Homo sapiens: one gene and its partners. The protein of the gene in region 4 purifies or fractionates together with the protein of the main gene of each other region. This does not show direct contact. Each region holds a gene or a part of one and is shown on either strand. Other genes may lie near its edges.

Region 1 (3,500 bases), on a different chromosome or scaffold from region 4:
AGGCCACATCTTAGTGGCCTTACTTTACATCTTAGTAAAAAAAAAAAATTTTTTTTCAACTGAAGTTAAGTTTTACCTTGTTACCAGATTCAGAAGAAGATGTTGTTGAAACTCCTGCAGTGTCTCATGATGAACATACACACCAAGAGATAAAGGGCCGAAAAACACTGGCAACTCCTGCAGTTCGCCGTCTGGCAATGGAAAACAATGTAAGTTCTCTTAATATTTAAGTCTGAGATTGTATAGGAAGTGTACATTTGTATCTCTGAAAAATTAGCCAACTATCCCATGATGAAATAGCTCAATGAAATTAAGGAAACATGAAGATATTTGCTACTGAAAAGCAATAGTTGCATAAAAATACATGGGAGAAATGAGAAGTTGTAAACTTATTACTTACTATCAATTGAGCAGTATGATTTTATTATTCTTTCTTAGAGCCTAATAACAGTAAGAGCTACCATTTACTGAGCACTTGTAAATACCAGGTCTTATGTCAGGTGCTCTAGAGGCACAGCATGAGATAGGAATTTGAAGGAGGGAAAACCTGTAAAGGGACTGAAGGAAGCAAGATAAAAAAGAGAAGAGAAGGGAAATTGGCCAGACATGGTTATGGTATCAAGCATCTGGCCTGTCCCAAAGCTTGCCATGGTCCTAAGTAAAAAAAGAAAGACTCTGGCCTGATCTGAGGGTGCAAGGGAGAACCACAGAATTACTGCTTTGAGGCAAGGAGGCCGGCCTTTTGTATTTCCTCTGCCAGTCATTGACTGAATGGAAGGTGGAATGCCAGGCAGGGTGGCTCCCTGGCACTGGGATAGGTATTTACGTATTCTCATTTAACCCTGTAAGATAAGGAGCTATTTTAAGACTTGGAGGGTTTAAGTAACTAGTCTAAAGTCACACAGCTAACATAGCAAGAGCCAGAATTCAAAAGTGAGTCTATATCACTCCAAAACCTGTGCTGTTAGATGTTATATAAACCTCAACAATCATTGCCTCCATTATTTGAGCACATATGTGCCAGACACTATAGACACATCTGTAATCCTCACAAGGACCCTGCAGGCAGGTTGATTAACTTATCTAAAACCAAGTAAGCTGAACTAGGGATTTGAACACAAATCTGTCTGGTTCTGAAACCTGAATACTTTCCACTGTGCCCCACAATGAGACTTTTTGTTTGTCTCTTTTTGAGAAAAGTAAGGTTGCTGTGGGAAAAAAATAAAAGTTTATATTTTGTGAAATATGTAATAGAGTCATTAAAATGTTCATATTCTTTCAGCCAGTTATCCTGCCACTGGGGAACTATCCCAAGAAAATAATCTAGGAATCATTCTTCCTTGTATTTTATATAGCCAAAAATTAGAAGATGCATACACATTCAAATTATGTTATGTATCCTTGATAAAATGTTATGTAACCCTTAAATGTGTTTAAGTATGAAGACCATTTAGCATAACAGAAAATAGATATAGTAACGTGGAACATTAGGTTATTAAGGGCATCAGATGAAATAATGATTTAACATTTTGCTTTGAAATCTATAAAGCATTTTAATAATTTTTTTCTTAATAATATAGAAAGAAATATATAGAAGAAATGTATGATTTGGCTTTCCTAAAACACTCCCTAAAGATGGGTATAGAATACTTGGGTAGAGTGCTTGTATGATTACTAAAAATTAAATATTGGATTTAGTTATCAGAAATCATCTTTTTTCTTTGAATTTGCATATTTATGAATTGAGTTTGTTTAAAATTAAGAACCAGTGGCATTTACAGTTGTTTGTAACTGCCTAAAAATTATTTGTTTAAATTTTCATAGTCCATTTGTTACAAACTTAGTGTTTGCCTTAGTAAAGTCCTTTATTATTTTAGTCATCCTTAGAGATGCACTAATACAAATGAAATGGGGCCTATCCCTAAGAAATTAATACATACTATATATGAGGAGATCATTCCAAGCTTTTATGTTTATTTTTATTTAAATAGAATTAAATGTTTTGTACTGATCTTTCCAAAGCAACTACCAGAAAAATAACTAATTTGAGAGAGCTTTTGTATTATGATTATTTAAGTTGTTACGTTTTTAACTGGTAGCCAGTGTCAGAAACATTGGTCTAAATTTGGTATAGCATTTAGTTTCTCTTAAATTCTCAGCTCTCCCTCTTCTTATGTAGTCCCCAAGAATAGAAAAGGTCGAGTAAGAATTATGCAAGAGATTTTAAAATACTTGAGTATAAAAATGTAAGTTTTCAGCTGGGCATAGTGGCTCACGCCTGTAATTCCAGCACTTTTGGGAGGCTGAGGTGAGAGGATAGCTTGAGGCTAGGAGTTCAAGACCAGCCAGGGCAACAGAGTGAGACCCTGTCTCTACAAAAAATTTTTTTAAAAAGTAAGTTTTCATAAATAGCTCTAGATTATATATAATATAGATACCTGATGGTTACCACATGCATATGTGAACAGTATATACAAAAGTAATGATTACTTAAGTAGAAAATGAAAAGGTTATTTCCTTTTACTAATTTATTGGACAGATATATTTTACTGTCAGTTGATCAAATTCCATTTTGAAACTTTAATGATGTTTTTAAATAGTTGTATTTTTGGCATTAAAATATATCATTTTTTAGATTAAGCTGAGTGAAGTTGTTGGCTCAGGAAAAGATGGCAGAATACTTAAAGAAGATATCCTCAACTATTTGGAAAAGCAGACAGGAGCTATATTGCCTCCTTCACCCAAAGTTGAAATTATGCCACCTCCACCAAAGCCAAAAGACATGACTGTTCCTATACTAGTATCAAAACCTCCGGTATTCACAGGCAAAGACAAAACAGAACCCATAAAAGGTAATGATAATAATAACAATACTATAAGGCAATAGTTCATTTATTTTGGGGGAAGCTACCTCAGTAGATAAATGTATATAATATGGTGTTTTCAAGTCTTACTGAAGGGAAAGTTCAACTTCAGTCAGCATATAATTTTTCTTTTCTTTTCTTTTTTTTTGAGATGGAGTTTTGTTCTTGTTGTCCAGACTGTAGTGCAGTGGCACGATCTTGGCTCACTGCAGCCTCCGCCTCCCAGGTTCAAGCAATTCTCCTGCCTCAGCCTCCTGAGTATCTGGGATTACAGGTGCACGCCACCATGCTCAGCTAATTTTTTGTATTTTTAGTAGAGACAGGGTTTCATCATGTTGGCCAGGCTGGTCTCGAACTCCTGACCTCAGGTGATCCACCCTCCTCAGCCTCCCACAGTGCAGGGATTACAGGCGTGAGCCACTGCGCCTGGCCATAATTTTTAAATGGTGAAATAGCATAGCTTTTCCAGGAAACACTTACAATTTATGTGTATCATTATCTTCTGAAGAGTAATACGTTAGCAGGTTTCTTGAAATATAAACTTGTATATTGATAATTGCTCTGTTTGAAGACACACAGGACATTTTAAACATTCACTATTTGTAGTTAGCTTTCAAAATAACTAGTTCTGATTTG
Region 2 (3,500 bases), on a different chromosome or scaffold from region 4:
AAAATGTGAGCCAGAAACATGAAGTGAGCCTATGCTGTTGGGAAAATGGCACCAATAGACTTACTCAATACACGGTTGCCAGAAATCCTTAATTGTAAAAAATGCAGTATCTGCAAAGTGCAATAAAATGAGGTATGCCAGTATAAGCTTTGTACTTTTTACTTAGTTTTGGTAACAAGTGTCTAAGAATTGGTGCAGTAAATGTGGACTCTTAACTTTCATGTATTTTTTTGTCAGTCTGTAACTGATTTCAGTTTGAGTTATGTATTATTTTTATGGTATTTATTATGTGTCCTTCTTTATAGTTTCTTATCACCACAGGAGAAAATCTAGATTATCTTGATGGTGTCCATACGGTGTTTGGTGAGGTGACAGAAGGCATGGACATAATTAAGAAAATTAATGAGACCTTTGTTGACAAGGACTTTGTACCATATCAGGATATCAGGTATGGTTACAATTTGCTATCTGAATGTACTAGAATGTTTTAATATTGAGATGTTTAACACGTAGTGGTATGGATAGGAACGGTATGCATAGGACTGGTTTCTGGATAATTCTAATCCCAAAAGGTGAATTAATATAAGACTGTAAGAATCTTTATAATAAAAAGGACTTTTTGTATTTTTATACTTGTACTAATTATTTATAATTATGTTTGGAGGAATTATTTATTTATTTATTTTTTGAGACGGAGTCTCATGCTGTTGCCCAGGCTGGAGTGCAGTGGCGCGATCTTGGCTCACTGCAAGCTCTGTCTCCCGGGTTCACACCATTCTCCTGCCTTAGCCTCCCAAGTAGCTAGGACTACAGGCGCCCGCCACCACACCTGGCTAATTTTTTGTATTTTTAGTAGAGACGGGGTTTCACCATGTTAGCCAGGATGGTCACGATCTCCTGACCTCATGATCCACCCACCTCAGCCTCCTGAAGTGTTGGGATTACAGGAATGAGCCACTGCACCCAGCTGGAGGAATTGTTAATGCTTTAATTTAGTTTTTTAATTGAGAAGTAGGGCAAAAGTACTAAGATTTAGACAGTTATATTAGTTTACATCTTAAAGTAATGCAGGGTGATAAATATGGTATCACTCAATGCAAAACAGTAACACTCATTGTGAAAGTATATCTAGGTTAGTAATATCCATATGCAATATGGGTTTTTTTTGGCCTTAGAGATAATCAAGTAATTTTTTGTAATCTATTAAAATAAAATAGGATTCTGAAATAACTTCAATGTATAACATTTGATTTGGATTTATTTTGTAAGGATAAATCATACGGTGATTTTAGATGATCCATTTGATGACCCTCCTGATTTATTAATCCCTGATCGATCACCAGAACCTACAAGGGAACAATTAGATGTAAGTAAAGCCCTCTTATGATTAAATGTACATTCATATTAATGATTTGTATGGATTTATCTTTTTCATCTGTTAAAGTTAATTTTTTCCGAATTATTATCTTGCTTAATTATATTCAACAAGTTTGGAGTTCTTTTTCTTTTCCACAGAGGTACTCATTTTTCTAGCTGTCTTCTCATTTCTCTAATTTCCTTTCTTCAGTTTCTTTTCTACTGAGACAACCTCAGCTCTAGAAGCTTACATGAACACCTTGGGAAAGTGTTTTTCTTGTCATCAAATTAAACTGTTATCTTGTGAGGTAACTTTTCAACTGGGGACACTCTGGAGCCAGGCTAGAACCCAGAAATTTCTGTGAAACAGCGCAGACTGTTCCCCCACATATTTTAAGGTTTATGTGGCTTCCTGAAAGCTGAATTTGTCTTTATGGTTGGGATTGGTGCTTAATTGTCAGATCATTTCTCTTCATTCAGCAGTTAGAATTGGATAATAAATAGTGTCCATATAAATATTTATTTATTTTTTTGAGATGGAGTCTCACTTTGTTGCCTAGGCTGGAGTGCGTGGTGGGATCTCGGCTCATTGTGGCCTCTGCCTTCCTCATTCAAGCAATTCTCGTGCCTCAGCCTCTTGAGTTGCTGGGATTGTAGGTGCATGCCACCACGCCCAGCTAATTTTTGTATTTTTAGTAGAGACAGGGTTTCACTGTGTTGGCCAGGCTGGTCTCGAACTCCTGACCTCAAGTGATCCACCTGCGTGTTCTCCCAAAGTGCTGGGATTACAGGCACGAGCCACCATGCCTGGCCTATTTTGATTTTAACAGAAGCCCACTTTGGCTAATATTTTAGAATTAATATAAATCAATTCTTGGAGGTTTATAAGTTTGTCTCAGTTGCTGTCCAATTAATTATTAAAAATTTTTTTTTAGAGACAAGATCTCACTGTGTCACCCAGCTGGAGTGCAGTGGTGTGATTGTAGCTCACTGCAACCTTGATCAGTTACTGTTTTAGCATGTTTGATATAACTAAGAATAAAGTATGTCTTCTATGTTTCTCAGATTTTTTTATTCTTTAAATATATACATGAGTAACTTCTGTCTTAACAGAGTGGTCGAATAGGAGCAGATGAAGAAATTGATGATTTCAAAGGAAGATCAGCTGAGGAAGTAGAAGAAATAAAGGCAGAAAAAGAGGCTAAAACTCAGGCTATACTTTTGGAGATGGTAAGATAATTATCTTTGTTCAAATTGTTCTGTAATATATCTAATAATACTTACTGAGTGTTTATTTCTGGCTCTTCAGTAGTCTTAAAATGTTAAAAATTGAGTTATGATTTTTTTCTGATTTAAATTTGGTATGGCATAGTAATAAATTGGCTCTACTGTGAAAATAAATTTGACTCTACTGTCAATATAGTGCTAAGTGCCTTTTTAAACAGTGGGAAGTGGATCTCTAACTTATTAATTGAATTTCAGTTGTTTAATATTCATCTCATTCTTAAAGAGTGTTTAGCAGGCTGAATTTTATGTATATTAAAGAATAGTTCTTCACTGTACCACTCAAGTGTTAAGATTAAACAGAATGGTAGTTGTAGGGCAAAATAATGGGTGGAAACTGAGCACTCTAAAATATACTGCTTCTCTGTATTACTAACAACCTGAAGTCATTTGGGGAATAATAATTCAGTAGATGATTAATTGACCTACTTGGTATTATTTTCCATTTCTTATTTTTGTAGAATAGGCATACCTGTCATATCATAGATAATAAATATTGGAATGAATGGATAATAAAGTTACTATTTTATATAATAGAACTTTCAGATTTGTAGTCTGTTTTAAAGTTTATTTATTTATTATTTTATAGAGACAGGGTCTCACTCTGTTGTTCAGGCTGGAGTACAGTGGTGTATGATCATAGCTTGCTGCAGCTTCCAACTCCTCAGCTTAAGCAATGCCCTTGCCTCAGCCTCCTGAGTTGCTGAGACCACAGTCACACACCACAATGCCCTGCTAATTTTAAAATTTTTTTTGTAGAGACAGGATCTCCCTATGTTGGCCAGGCTTAAGTTTATATTACCATCAACTGTCTGAATGAACAAATAGTAAAGGCTGTATAGTTCAAGAAAGCTTTACTG
Region 3 (3,185 bases), on a different chromosome or scaffold from region 4:
CTTGCTTTGTCTCCCAGGCTGGAGTGCAGTGGCATGATCATAGCTCACTGCACCCTCAAACTCCTGAGCTCAGAAGATCTTCCTGCCTCAGTCTCCCAAGTAGCTGGGACTACAGATGCATGCCACCATGCTGGCTAATTTTCTATTTTTAGTAAAAATGGGGTTCTTGCTATGTTGCCCAGGCTGGTCTTGAACTCCTGGCTTCAAGCAGTCCTCCCACCTTGGCCTCCCAAAGTGCTAGGATTACAGGCATGAGCCACCATTCCCAACCCCATTTCAGGAAATTGTTGTTTCAGTAAACTTGTACCTCATCTAATGCACAGATCACTTTCCGTTTTCCCCAGTTATCCTCAAAATATTTTTTTTACAGGTATTTGGCCCACCCTAGTATCCAACTCAGGACAATGCGTTATATTTGGCTGATATGTTGCTTAAATGTCTTCCAGTGTAGCACAGTTCCCCCCACCCCTTTTTAAATAGCATTGGCTTATTCAAGAAACTTCTGGATATGTCTCCTTGCTGCCCCATGGTGTCATTTAGCTTGTCTGTAAGCCCCGTATTTCCTATCAACTGGAATTTCTAAAGACTTGATGGATTCAAGTTAAACTTTTTTTTTTTTTTTTTTTTTTTTTTTTGACAGAGTGAGAGTTTCACTCTGTCGCCCAGGCTGGAGTCTAATGGCGTGATCTCGGCTCATTGCAACCTCCGCCTCCCTGGTTCAAGTGATCCTTCTGTCTCAGCCTCCAAAGTAGCTGGGATTACAAGTGTGCACCACGATGCCCAGCTAATTTTTGTATTTTTAGTAGAGACAGGGTTTCACCATATTGGCCAGACTGGTCTTGAACTCCTGACCTCAAGTGGTCCGCCCACCTCAGCCTCCCAAAGTGCTGGGATTACAGGTGTGAGCCACCGTGCCTAGCCTCAAGTTAAACATTTTGGGCTAGAAGACATGGCTGGTGTATTCATATGGCATCACACACATGATATCTGGGTGGGCCACCCTTAGCCTTGCAAAGATTGACCACTGGACCAGGAATGGCCTCTTATCCTTTCATTATATAGTGCTTTTCCCCTATTGACCTGACAGTGACCCATACAAGTGATGAGTTCCCTATTAACCAGATACCTAATGGTTTTAACACTTACAATAATCCTTGTCTAAATCAGTAATTTCATTAGAATTTACCGAAAAATGCCCGCTTCCCCTGAATTCTTTCAGTCTTCCATTCTTCTGTGAAGTGGAACTTCTTCCCTCCAATCAACTAGGGTTCTTTGGTTATCATGGAATATCATTCCTATTGATTGGAAAGCAGGATAAATGCTAATTCTTTCTGTTATCCACTTTTCAAGGTGAAATGTCGTCTCAAATAGTGACAAAGAAAGATTTTTCCTTTTCCTTTTTTTTTCTTTTTCTTTTTTTTTTTTTAGACAGGGTCTCGCTCTGTTGCCCAGGCTGGAGTGTAGTGTCGCAATCTCAGCTCACTGCAACCTCCTCCCCACAGGTGCAAGAGAGTCTCATACCTCAGCCACCTGAGTAGCTGGGATTACAGGCATGCACCACCATGCCCGGCTGTTTCTTGTATTTTTAATAGATACAGGGTTTCACCATGTTGGCCAGGCTGGTCTTGAACTCCTGGAATCATGTGATCTGCACACCTTGGCCTCCCAAAGTGCTGGGATTACAGGCGTGAGCCAGCACACCTGGCCTGCTTTTCCCTTTCTGACTATCTTAGAATCATGGAATTTCATTTATTCAGTGTCCTCTATAATTATTATATTTGATTTGTGAATTGCCATGGCTTTGACCAGTGGGAGCCCCTTCAGCATAACTCCTGTGCCCTTTGACTCTTGGAAGTCTCCTTGCTTTTTGGCACAACAAAAATTGTAGACATGTCTTGTTCATTTCGCCCCCCAGACTTGGTAGTTTTTGGCAAGCAGTGGTATTAGAGACCATAGCCTGGCACTGCAAGTGTTCATTGTTCTTGGGGGAGGGGACGGTGCTTTGGGTCCATTTCCATGGACATAGCAAGAAAAAAGTACATATTTTAAAAATCATGAAGCCAGGTGTGGTAGCTCAGGCCTGTAATCCCAGCACTTTGAGAGGTAGTGGATCACTTGAAGTCAGAAGTTCGAGAACAGCCTGGCCAATATGGCAAAATCTCGTCTCTACTGAAAATACAATAATTAGCTGAACGTGGTGGTGCGTGCCTGTAATCCCAGCTACTTGGGAGGCTGAGACAGGAGAATCGCTTGAACCCAGGAGGCAGAGGTTGCAGCGAGCTGAGATTGCGCCACTGCACTCCAGCCTGGGCATCGCAGGGAGACTCCATCTCAAAATAAATAAATAAAATAAAATAAAAATTTTTAAATAAAAATCATGAGTTAATACTGTAATTCTTATTCATAAAATTATTCTTATTTAGTTAAATAGTTACTACCTATTTGATTTTGTAATTCTGTTTTCTCTTACACTGAAAACCTTGATATCTAGCATCATATTTTCATTTTCTTATTTTTTTACCATAATATAAAGAAAATCATTTCAAAATGTCAGTAGCAATATTTTTAAAGACACTGATACCACTGAGTGATTTTTTTCTGTGAGTGTGGATATTAAGCAAGAGGGTGACAAGGATGGATACTTTTAAAAATCCCCCTTCCTGCTGTGTGGAGAATGGATTGGAACTAGGGTGGTGGCAATGCAGATAGAATGGGACCAATTCAGAATATATTGTCCTTTGGGGTCTGCCATTTAGCATTGGCTTTGATTTTATGCTCCGAATGGACCATCTCCCAGGCCCCTTCCCACCCTGCAATTCTAAGATGGCGTCCTCCTTGGCTCTGATAAGCACACACTGCATGTTGCTCATGGGTCTCCTGCTCTCCCTAGGATCTCATGGTCCGGAATGACACCCCCTGTGGAACCACCATTGGACCTATCTTGGCTTCTCGGCTGGGGCTGCGGGTGCTGGATTTAGGCAGCCCCCAACTGGCCATGCACTCTATCCGGGAGATGGCCTGCACCACAGGAGTCCTCCAGACCCTCACCCTCTTCAAGGTAACACCCACCCCAGACCCTCTCTGGCAGCTGGGCTGCTTCCCCTCTAGTGCCTGGATTGGTTGCTGGGACAACATCGCCATCACAAAGTGACTGGCCTGAGTAATGGGGGCTGGTTGTCATGCTG
Region 4 (3,500 bases):
AATGAACAAATATTATTATAATATCCAGATTACTAGCATGATTGTCACAATTTATATCTAACCTTTACAGGATTTTAGCATATTTCATGAAAATAAGTAGATGTACAGAAAATCAAGTTACTCTTTGTTCTATAATAGAAACAGAGAAGATAAGCCACAGTGCTTTTAAAACAGAGTATTTGAGCAAGAGACTTTGTTGGTGTTACTTTTTCTCTTTTCTCAATTTGATTTATCTTCTAGGAAAGGATCATACAGATTCTTCAGTTCAGAAGAACTCCAGCAACACTTACATGGTGACAACACCCTCTCCCATTCTCTGTTGTTACTCCAAATTTTAATTACTGGTCTCAAAACTCCTGTCTTAATCTTAGCAGACAACCTTGGCACTTACCACTGAATGAAAATGAAGGCTATTATGTGAGAAATACTTCATCTTTCTCCCTTTTACCTCCTACCACCCTACAAAAAATCCTGCATCCATTCCCTGTCTTTATTCTTTGCCTCTGCTCTTGGGGGAAGAAATTCTTTCTATCTCTGAATTTAATTTCATTCCTTTCTGTTTTCTCTGTGATATTGCCACATTAGTTATTTCTTCTCTTACCTAGGTTTTTAAAACATGTTTTCTTTGTACTTTATCCTTCTAGATGCCCTATGAATATGCTCAAGTTTCTTTCATGTAAAAAAAAACACAAAAGAATTTTAACTCTGCATCTTTCATGGTTGCCTTCTTATCTCTTTACTTTCCGTATTGACTGTGACTATGTACTCTAGGTCTCTACATTCTCACCTTCAATTCAGTCTTTTAACCCACTGTCACCTGGCTTGTGCCTTCACCACTTAGCTGAGATTGCATTAGCAAAGGTTACTAATGACTTCTTGATAGCTAAGTATAATGGACATTTTCAGATCTGAACTTGACTGATCTTCTGCATTTAATACTGTTGTCTGTAACAAATCTTTTCTATTTTTATGAATTTTTCAAAGGTAAGGATAATACTTGTTTTTTGTAGAAAATTTAAACATTACAGAGTCATAAGGATTCTTATGCTCACCTTGAAACTTTATTCACCCTGTGTTTCTTGACTCTTTCTTTTCTGATACTGGTCCAGCTCTTACTACTCTGGCTAATTTCTTAATGCATACTTTGTAGGTTTTTCATTCACTGCCAACCCCTTGCATGTTGGTGTTCAGTTGGATCCAGTCTCAAACTTTTTTCCACTTGAAATTTCCCTGCAAAATAATTTAGTTTTCTCTCATGACCCTAGCTATCACTCAGCGACTGCCAGTTCAGTATTTCTAACTCAGATCACTTTCCAAAGTGCCAAATCCCATACATCCTCTTTCTTACATGGATAATTGTCCATAAATCTCATAGGCACTTCAAACTTCAGGAGTCCAAAATGGAAACTAGAACCTTTTCTCGAAGTCTGTGCCATTTTCTCTATTACCTAGTCATTGTCATTGCCTTTGGTCTAATGTGTCGAGCCAGAGCCTTACCCCAGATTTCTTTCTCTTTTTCATCCTTTGTATCCAATTTGTCACTAATTTCAATAGAATCTTCTCAACATGTCTCATATATTTCTCATTCTTTTCATTCACAGTGTTGCTGTTTGAGTTCAGACTCTTTCATTTCTTGTCTACATGAATTTTTAAGTGGTCCCATTGCCTTCTGTCTTAACCTGACTTCAATCCGTCTGTCACTGGGCAAATAATTGTCCTTAAACACTCAAATATGACCATATCATTTTTCTGCTTAAAATAGTGTCTCCCCGTTAGCTTCACTGTAAATCCCACAGGAGAGATTCCAACCACCTTAGCATACCACCCAAAGCCTTTGTTAACTGGCCTTCGCCTATCTTTCTAGCTGATGTCAGGACTAGGTCTCAAGGGACTGAAATTAGAATGGATTATTCTATTGTAAGTGTCAAGTAACAGAAAGAAGCTGCAAGTTGAATATGAACTGAAGTATTTAAGAGTTTTGAATGGTCAAATCAGAGACACAATGATATTTGAGACGTGGTTAGGGTAAGAGTAAGAATGAAAATTACAGAAAGACCTAAAAGGGCTGCCTATAAATAAAGAGGAAGGAGAATAAGATCAAGAACACAGAAAATAAGATGTTGGAAACTATCACCAAGAGTCACTGAAATGTCTATAGCATTGAGCTTATGATGGGTAGGTATGTTAGGTTGACTTAAAGGATCAGATTTAAGATGGAGATTGATAGAAAAATCTATTATATGTCTGATCGTCTTTCTCTTCTATATAAAAGACTTTATTGGCTCTTGTATCAACTATAGGACAAAATTCAAGATTTTCAAATGACCTAAGAGGGCCTCCATATTTAGGCTTCTTTTTATCTCTGCAAACTTACCTCCTTCCCCCTGCCCTCTTGATCTTTAGGTTCCATCAACTCTAAATACCTGCTGCTCTTTTCTCATGTTTCCTCTGCCAAGATTGTCCTTAATTTCCTCATTTTCTGGGTAAATGCCTGTTCATTCCTTAAGACCCTATACAGACATCACCATCTCCAGGACACTCCCTCTGAATCCTCCTTTCTCTCAGAGTTACCCATCCATCCATCCATGCATTTATTTATTTGTTTATTATTGAGAAAATATTTATTGAGTGCTTAATATGGATCAGATTCTATGTCAGGTAATGGGAACACCGTGGTGAATAAGATAGGCCACACATGACCTTTACCCTTCTTGGTCTTACATTTAGCAGTGGATACACATGTATAACGCAATAATCACAAATAAAATAATTACCAATTTCATAAATGCTACAAATAAAATAAACGATGAACTATCATACAGAAAAATGAGGATGAGGGGTAGACAGAGAGGCAAACCACTTTAGTATAAGGTTGAGCCATAAAAAGTTGTTGATCTTTAAACTGTTTGTGTCCCATAAAATAGTTTTACATAGTTTAACCTAATGGTTGACTTTCTGAGGAATTGACATTTAAGCTGAAACCTGAAGGATGAGGTGGAATTGGCCATGCTGGCTAAGCCTATAATTCGGCATGTTCCAGGAACCAAATGAAAAGAATTGAGAAAAAAGGTGAGTGAAACAAAACAAAAGTAAGAGACAGAAGTAGGGCAGATCATATAGGACCTTATAGGAGATTGGATTTGTTTTTCATTAAAATATAAAACCACTGGAGTTTTTTAAGATCCCTCTGTTTACAGTGTGGGACTAGAATAAAAGGGAGTAAGGTTGGAAAAATGCTACCTATTAAGAGGTTGATGTAAGGAGACAATTTGGTGTTGCCTTATTTGTGCAGCTTGGAATCAGGCTGCCTTTGTTTAAATCCTGGATATGCCATTTATTAGCCATGTTACTTCATGTTCAAATTTTGAGTTTTACTCTAATTCTCTAAGCCTCAGTTTATCTATCTGTGAAATAGAGACAATGATAGGATCAACTTCATAGGTCTGGCCTTGAGATTGAATGAGATAATCCATTGCAAACACTAAGCAGTCCTTGACAGA

The links. Proteins that work in one complex are often made in the same cells at the same time.
Region 1: the proteins of FAM133A (region 4) and DBT purify together in Homo sapiens (affinity purification with mass spectrometry; one large-scale study listed by BioGRID and IntAct). This does not show direct contact.
Region 2: the proteins of FAM133A (region 4) and PPIL4 purify together in Homo sapiens (affinity purification with mass spectrometry; one large-scale study listed by BioGRID and IntAct). This does not show direct contact.
Region 3: the proteins of FAM133A (region 4) and DNPEP purify together in Homo sapiens (affinity purification with mass spectrometry; one large-scale study listed by BioGRID and IntAct). This does not show direct contact.

Annotation. Positions count from the first base shown.
Region 1 is NC_000001.11:100,215,335-100,218,834, reverse strand, and holds part of DBT (lipoamide acyltransferase component of branched-chain alpha-keto acid dehydrogenase complex, mitochondrial isoform 1 precursor), read left to right. Parts: intron 1-87; coding exon 88-209; intron 210-2,635; coding exon 2,636-2,852; intron 2,853-3,500. UniProt on the Homo sapiens protein: The branched-chain alpha-keto dehydrogenase complex catalyzes the overall conversion of alpha-keto acids to acyl-CoA and CO(2).
Region 2 is NC_000006.12:149,532,544-149,536,043, reverse strand, and holds part of PPIL4 (peptidyl-prolyl cis-trans isomerase-like 4), read left to right. Parts: intron 1-305; coding exon 306-448; intron 449-1,269; coding exon 1,270-1,366; intron 1,367-2,469; coding exon 2,470-2,586; intron 2,587-3,500. UniProt on the Homo sapiens protein: PPIases accelerate the folding of proteins. It catalyzes the cis-trans isomerization of proline imidic peptide bonds in oligopeptides.
Region 3 is NC_000002.12:219,374,728-219,377,912, reverse strand, and holds part of DNPEP (aspartyl aminopeptidase), read left to right. Parts: intron 1-2,890; coding exon 2,891-3,058; intron 3,059-3,185.
Region 4 is NC_000023.11:93,705,206-93,708,705, forward strand, and holds part of FAM133A (protein FAM133A), read left to right. Parts: intron 1-240; exon of another isoform or gene 241-3,069; intron 3,070-3,500.